Linked DNA regions of Homo sapiens. Changing the gene in region 2 together with the main gene of any one other region gives a genetic interaction. Each region holds a gene or a part of one and is shown on either strand. Other genes may lie near its edges.

Region 1 (3,649 bases), on a different chromosome or scaffold from region 2:
ATTAAGTGAATCACTTAACCTAGTAAAGGACATATAAGACCATTTTGATGAACCTCTGAATCAGAAAATGGTCCCAAGGGAAGCAACATTGGGTCCACAAGATACCTGAGACATCAGCCCTGTGATACCACTATTGATCCAGAAATCTGAGAACCATACTACCAGCTGGATATCTACAGCCTAAGGTCTGCTGGTTCTAAAGCAGAAGACACTCTGTTTTCTTTTTTTTTTCCCTGAGACAGAGTCTCGCTCTGTCACTGCAGTGGCGTGATCTCGGCTCACTGCAAGCTCCGCCTCCAGGGTTCAAGCGATTTTCCACCCCACCCTCCCAAGTAGCTGGGAGTACAGGCGCTTGCTACCATGCCTAGCTATTTTTTTTTGTATTTTAGTAGAGATGGGGTTTCACCATGTTGGCCAGGCTGGTCTCGAACTCTTGACCTCAGGTGATCTGCCAGCCTCGGCCTCCCAAAGTGCTGGGATTACAGGTGTGAGCCACCGCGCCCTGCCAACACTCTATTTTCAATCCTATCCAAAGTATTCTGAGGTTTTGATCCCAAACTCTTGAGATTAATACTCAGTAATTTGTATTCCTGGCTTTCCTCAAACATTATCCCCACATCATGGACCTATTACTACTATATTACTCTATACCAGCACTTTGAATACCCTTACTTCCACCATCCAACCTGGTCTCCTTCTCATGGAATGCAGTCTCTGCCTTCTCAAAACAGCACCTAACATATAGACTCGAATACTGCTTTGATGACTTTGAAGGAGCAGAAAAACAATACATGAGTTACAAGTTAGGCAGTGATTTGTTTCAGCATATTTTAAAAAGAGGCTAATGAGATTTGTGTTGTGCACACAGTAGGCACTCATGTATATTTTAATAGGTATTTCAAACAGGGCTCATTGTGCCAATAGTAAGCAAAGAGATGTTTTTTCCATATGGCACAAACATTCACCTAAGAAAGCTAAAATACAGTCGCTTACAGGTTAATAAAATTAATGTACTTACCTTGTTATTTTCTCTCCCAAGCCTCTGGGTCCAACTAAAATCTCTTGCCTTTTGTATATGTGGCTAAGCAATATTCTGCTTAGAATAAACCTTTTGGCTAACTAGCTATCTCTGTAGTTTTACTTCCCATTTCTTTAGCACCTTTCCTTTAGTACATTTTCAAAACAGGGCTTGATTTTTCAATGAGATTCTATTGCTATCATATGTTCTAACCCAGCATGTGACTTCTATCCTAATTCCCCAAAATATTTCAAACATTTACATGGCTCAACAAATAATTCTCACTAGATTTCCTCTGTTATTTGGACTTTTCAGTTTGAATATATTTGTATTAGTTAGATAACTTTTCATTATTCTTAAAAATAACTTTCACTGTTTGCTCTTCAAATTCATTTCAATCCCTAGAATCTCTTTTTAATTCACCAAAATTCATGTTATGGTTCATTATCATGACCTTGGCTAGATTTACTGTCTACATAAACATATGTGTAACATAAATATAAATACACAAACTTTCTTAAAGATTCTTTACAATTAAGACTCTAAATTAAATTATCTGTCAAATAATTTTCTATTTTCTGCTCACTGTAGTAATTAACTAGAGTCGTTTTTGCCCCAGTCTTAAAATACTTCTCTAATCCACTATTTTTCTTCCTATTCAACAAGCTGCCTTAACCATAACTCTTACCGTACTTGCAATAATACATCTTTCCCCGAAAATATGTTCTTTCCAACTCATTTTCTTCATTTTCTCTAAGAGGTTATTGTTTTTAAATTGTTATAAAATTAATAACAACAACAATGAAAAAGCCAAATCCTTTTTTTTTTTTTTCCAAATTTCACTCTCACCCTTCAATTCCTTTTCTTTCTGTTTTACTCAGGCACAATTTCTAGGACATCCTTCCTCTGGTCTCATTCACTTCTGCTCAAACTCTTTCACTTTTTCTTTATATCTTCCAACCCCTTCCTAACCATTATCTCTTCCATAATTTGACCTCAACATATCTTTTCAACTATTTCTTCCGTAAGTCATCCTAAGTTAGCCCCTACTCCAAACTGGTCCTTCACTGTTCTCCAAATATGGTGGGCTCTCTCCAGCCCTCCAGCCCCCATAGCTTGGCACTCACTCTCCTCCCCTTCTACAGTGCTTTTCCTAACCTCTTCAAGAAACCCAACCTGTGGCTGTCCTCTACAAGTTGTTGGACAGAGCTATGGATATTCTACTTTTATTCTTCGGCTTCCTCCAACCCCCATCTTTCCTGTTTTGCTGTCATTCTCCTCTATGCACTCCAAAGATGTCCTCTTATTGCAAACCACAGACAATCCTTTTCCTGCTTGATGATTTATATGCTGCTTTAATTCCAAACTTTCCATTATTCTTTCTTTATCATGGCGTTTATCTTAGTTTGATTCATGCTGCCTTTGAGAAGGAACTATTCTTTGATTATTTCTTTTGCCCTGTTTCTCCATGAGCATCCTTCAGGCCTACAACAAGTGGACAAATCTTTCACATGAAATATTTAGGCTACATTTTTAATTCTATACCCTTTTTTCCTGGGCCAATAATAGAATGGTCTCCATAAAGGACAGCCATTCCTTTGCTGAATGGAGGAAAAGATTCCTCCTCTATTCAAATGCAGCCCTGCTGACTAATTAAAGAAATATGTCAAAACAGCTCCCAAGAAGAACCCATATGTCATCCAAAGAATTAAATGTTTTGAAAATAAGAAGAACCACTTGGTCCATTTTTCAATAGAGACTGAGAACAAATGAAAAGAAAGAGATGAATCAGAATTCAAGATGAAATAAATATAGAAATCTCTAGCTAAATGTAAGGAGAAAATATTTAAGCCTAGGCCTCTGGTAAGGCAAAAGGCCATTATGTATGTGCCTAAGGGTTTTACCACCTTTGTAACATTTGCCACTAGCTTTTGATCAAAGCTGAGCCCTCAAAAGGGAAAATGAGACATAAAAAGGTCAGGGAATAAGAATGGTAGGGAATGGATAGAAGGCTTTGGCATGATACAAAAAATTCTTTAATATGGTATGCTTCAAAAACAGTGGGAAAAAAAGAAAAAAAAAACAGCATGCACTTGAAGATGTCAATGCTTTGTGGGAGTGGATTTACTAAACTATAAGGCACTATTCCAATGTAGGCTATTTATTATTACTCAACAGACGTGCAATTATGTCTCACCCTCTCCTGAGTGACAAAGGGTATTAACTGTGTCCCACCACCTCTCCCAAACCTACAATGACAAAAGTAGTTAGAGAAAAACAGAACATTGGGATGGAAGGGCTTATTTCTTCTCTTAAATCCACGTTGCCCACTTGGTAACTGAGCTCCTGTACACCAAAGTAGTAGAAATGAGAGGCAGAAGCAGAATGCTGTCTCAACTTGGCTGTCTGCCTTCAAGAATTAAATAAAAATACGTGTTTATAGAAGTGGAACAGCTGCTTCAGCTAGTTTGGATACCCACTTTTGAGTCCTCAGGATGTTCTATTTTTCTAAGTCCACTACTCCTATAGTCTCTGAAAAGTATCAGACTAAAGAGTAAAGATACATAGATGGTTTGGGTCTTAGGTCTCCTGGAGACAACAGAATTACTTCCTCTTTCAAAACCTGGCATA
Region 2 (3,649 bases):
CCAGGAGGCCTCAGAGACTGTGTCACCTGAGCAGCCGGGGAGCAGGACCAGGAGCTGGGAAAAAAAAAACCGAACATCCCGCTCTTACTATGAGATTTTTCTCAGCAGTGGCCGCGGGCACTCACCTTTTTGAAGTGTGTGGCCGACTGCACCTTCCTCACGGGCTGCATGAGAGAGTCCCGCACGATGATGCTGATGTCCGCGCCCGAGTAGCCTTCCGTCTTCCGGGCCAGCTCGTGGATGTTTGCATCCGTGAGGTTGTGGGGAGTGCTCCCGAGATGCAACCGGAACATCTGGGCGCGGGCAGCTTCCTCCGGCAAGGGGATATAAATTCGTTTTTCAAACCTAGAGAGCCCAGCACACGGCAGGAGTTGACAGCGGATGATGGAATGGTATTCACGGAAGGGGAGGCACGAAGATTTGAGTGAAACGGACGCATTTCATGGGCCAGTGATGCTGGCGGCACATCCTCAACAAGCCAGCCTCACAAAGGGCTCTGCTTGGCAGGCAGACGGGAAGACTCCAGGGAAAAGGGGCCAGGCTGCACCCGGGCTGCCAGCAGCAGGCGGACCGTGACCATGGTGGGAGGAAGCCTCCAGCCCTGGCTTCTCCTGGGGAAGACTCACCTCCTCCTGATGGCCGAATCCAACACCCATGGGATGTTTGTGGCTCCAAGAACCAGAGTCCCATCATTGTTATTCCCCACCCCTGTGGAGAAAGGGAGACAAAGACTCAGACTCTGGACACCTGCACGGGTCAGTTGAAACCTGGGGACAGACCCCGGGGGCTTTGTGTGTCAGCAATTGAAGCCATCCCTGTGCCACCCACCACTGGCAGGGTCCCAAGTGAGATTAAACCACATCTTGGTCTGGCTGTGCCAGGTGAGACCTATGGCACTGCCTGCCATGGGAGGGGTGGAGTGGCCCGTGAGGCAGAGGCCTCAGGCACCTCTTGGGAATTGAAGTCCACCCGTGCCCTGAGGGGCTGGAGCTGGGGAGTGCCTCTCCGAGGCTGAGAACAACCAAATCCAGCCGCAGCTCAGAATAAAGCCCAGGGTTGGCTTCAGGTGCAACAAGAACCAAGGGGGCCCTGGGCCCGGCACACACCCTGCATCTGGACCAAGAACTCCGTTTTGATCCTCCGGGCGGCCTCACTCTCATTTTCATTTCGGGACCCGCAGAGGGAATCCACCTCATCGATGAAGATGATGGAGGGCTTGTGCTGCCTGGCCAGCTCAAACAGGTTCTTGACCAGCCTGTGAAGGTGAGAAAGGGGGTGAGGACAAGACGTTCACGTCCGTGCCCGCCTGGGCTCCCGGCACTTCCCTCTTCTCACCCTTCCCACAGGGAGGCGCAGGCCACGGTCATGCCGGAATTGCGGAAAACGTGGTGGTGAGGAGCCCTCGGGCCACACTGCACCAAGAGGAGGAGCACACCTTGGTGTCAGCCCCAAACGCAGAGCCTCAATCCCAGGAGCCCCATGCGCTAGCTCTGCACTTACAACACGTCAGTCCCCTTCTTCCGAGCCCGTCTCATCACACGCAAAACAGGAGTCAGTGTGGGGAACCATGTCCCCCACACACTGCCCCAACAGGGACCGCAACCCAGACCCCAAAAATATCCTCACTTCCTTTCCCTTCTCTTGTGGAGCACTTCACCTCTCCCAGGTCCCTTCCACCTTCACTTGTCTTTGTTGGGACTGTGTCCCAGCCGATAAGCTAGCGACACACTGCTCTTGGGTACCCTCCCTGAAAACCAAACCACTCCTCTGAGAGGTGACTCCACAGGGTGGGCCGCTGGGTCACTAGCAGTGCCGGGGCTGCTGGCAGAGCATGGCCTGGTGGCCGACTTACTTTTCACTCTCCCCCAGCCACTTGGACATCAGATCTGAGGAGGACACAGAGAAGAAGGTGGAGTTGTTGGCCTCTGTTGCCACGGCTTTGGCCAGGTAGGATTTCCCTGTGCCAGGGGGTCCGAACAGCAGAATCCCCCGCCAGGGGGTGCGCTTGCCTGCAACAGAGAACCACAGAAGTTAGGCCTCCTGACTGGGGAAAGGAATAGGAAAAGCAGAGGGTCTCGAGTCCCATACATACAGTAAAACAGGGCATTCTGTGAAACAACGGACTCTACTGGCAAACAAGTGATGGGAGCTACATTCCCTGCTGTGCCCTGTGCTATGACCCCATGACCTTGCACAGTGCCCCTGCTATGACCCCATGACCTTGCACAGTGACACCGGCTGGCACTGCTTCCTGATCCTGCCCCCACCCTGTGACGTGATCGTCATCTCATAGCTCCAGCCACAGCAGTGTTGTGGACACCAGCGAGCAGCCAGGCCTGGCCCTCTGCAGGCCCCGGGGGCTGAGTCGCCACTGACTCCCGGGTGCCTCGGAGTGCCAGCCCTGCGGAAGCCTGGAATTTTTACATTGGGGTTTGAAATGGCTCAACTCTCACCTGTGAACAAGTGTGGGAATTTGATTGGCAAAATGACAGCTTCTTTGAGGGCCTCCTTGGCCCCCTCCAGCCCGGCCACGTCGTTCCACCGTATGTTGGGCTTCTCCATCACGACGGCACCTGCGAGAGGGAGGCCGGCCCGGGCCCGGGCCCGGCCAAGGGGCATGAGCCAACCCAGCAGCGGACCCACTCTCATCCCCTGCCGCTGCCACAGGGCCGCGAGCCACTTACCCATCAGCTGTTCTTGCAGTTTCTTTTTCTCCGGATTATCCCCTTCACTGTCACTGTCACTGCTGGGAAGGGAGACGGAAAGTCACAAGCTGGCCCTTCAGCCTGGAGCACAGAGGTGCTCCCAGCAAGTCCAGGCTCCGCTGCCTGCACACTGGTTAAGGAACGAAGCCTTCCTGGCTTAACAGTGCCGTGTGACTCAAGCAAGTACTTCAGGGACATTTGGGCCAATGCTCTCAGCAGCTCACTTCAGGACCCCCCCAGCAAACACTCCTATAACCCGCCCTGTTTCTTCGCGGAGCAGATGGGAATCCGGGTCGGCCCTCTCCTGAAGGCCGTAAGGGAAATGTGCTTCAGCTGGACTTAAAGAGCAGCCCAGGCCAGGTGCGGTGACTCACACCTCATACTCTGGGAGGCCACCTGCAGTGGCTCTCACAGCCCAGGCTGGGTGCGGTGGCTCACCCCTGTAATCCCAGCACTCTGGGAGGCTGAGGCGGGAGGATCGCTTGAGCCCAGGAGTTTGAGACCAGCCTGGGAAACAGCGAGATCTTGTCTCTACAAAAAACACAAAATTAGCCAAGCATGGTGGCACGCACCTATGGTGCCAGCTACTTGGGAGGCAGAGGTTGCAGTTAACCAAGATCGCACCACTGCACTCCAGCCTGGGAGACAGTGAAGCCCTGTCTGGGGGAAAAAAAAAAAAAAAAGCCAGTCAAACAATGCAGCTGCCAGAAGCTTCTTTTTTTTTTTTTTTTTTTTTTGAGATGGTGCCCAGGTTGGAGTGCGATGGCACAATCTCCATCTCAGCTCACTGCAATCTCCGCCTCCCGGGTTCAAGTAATTCTCTGAATTCTCTGGCGTCAGCCTCCCGAGTAGCTGGGATTACAGGCACATGCCACAATGCCTGGCTAATTTTTTTTTTAAGACAGAGTCGCACTCAGTCGCCCAGGCTGGAGTGTAGTGGCTCG

What was found. A genetic interaction does not mean that the proteins touch.
Region 1: of VPS4A (region 2) and ATG10, changing one enhances a phenotype caused by changing the other (phenotypic enhancement), as found in Homo sapiens cells (one large-scale study listed by BioGRID).

What each region holds. Positions count from the first base shown.
Region 1 is NC_000005.10:82,167,522-82,171,170, reverse strand, and holds part of ATG10 (ubiquitin-like-conjugating enzyme ATG10), read right to left. Parts: intron 1-3,649. UniProt on the Homo sapiens protein: E2-like enzyme involved in autophagy. Acts as an E2-like enzyme that catalyzes the conjugation of ATG12 to ATG5. ATG12 conjugation to ATG5 is required for autophagy. Likely serves as an ATG5-recognition molecule. Not involved in ATG12 conjugation to ATG3.
Region 2 is NC_000016.10:69,317,747-69,321,395, reverse strand, and holds part of VPS4A (vacuolar protein sorting-associated protein 4A), read right to left. Parts: intron 2,747-3,649; coding exon 2,685-2,746; intron 2,574-2,684; coding exon 2,454-2,573; intron 2,010-2,453; coding exon 1,853-2,009; intron 1,256-1,852; coding exon 1,107-1,255; intron 709-1,106; coding exon 627-708; intron 346-626; coding exon 126-345; intron 1-125. UniProt on the Homo sapiens protein: Involved in late steps of the endosomal multivesicular bodies (MVB) pathway. Recognizes membrane-associated ESCRT-III assemblies and catalyzes their disassembly, possibly in combination with membrane fission.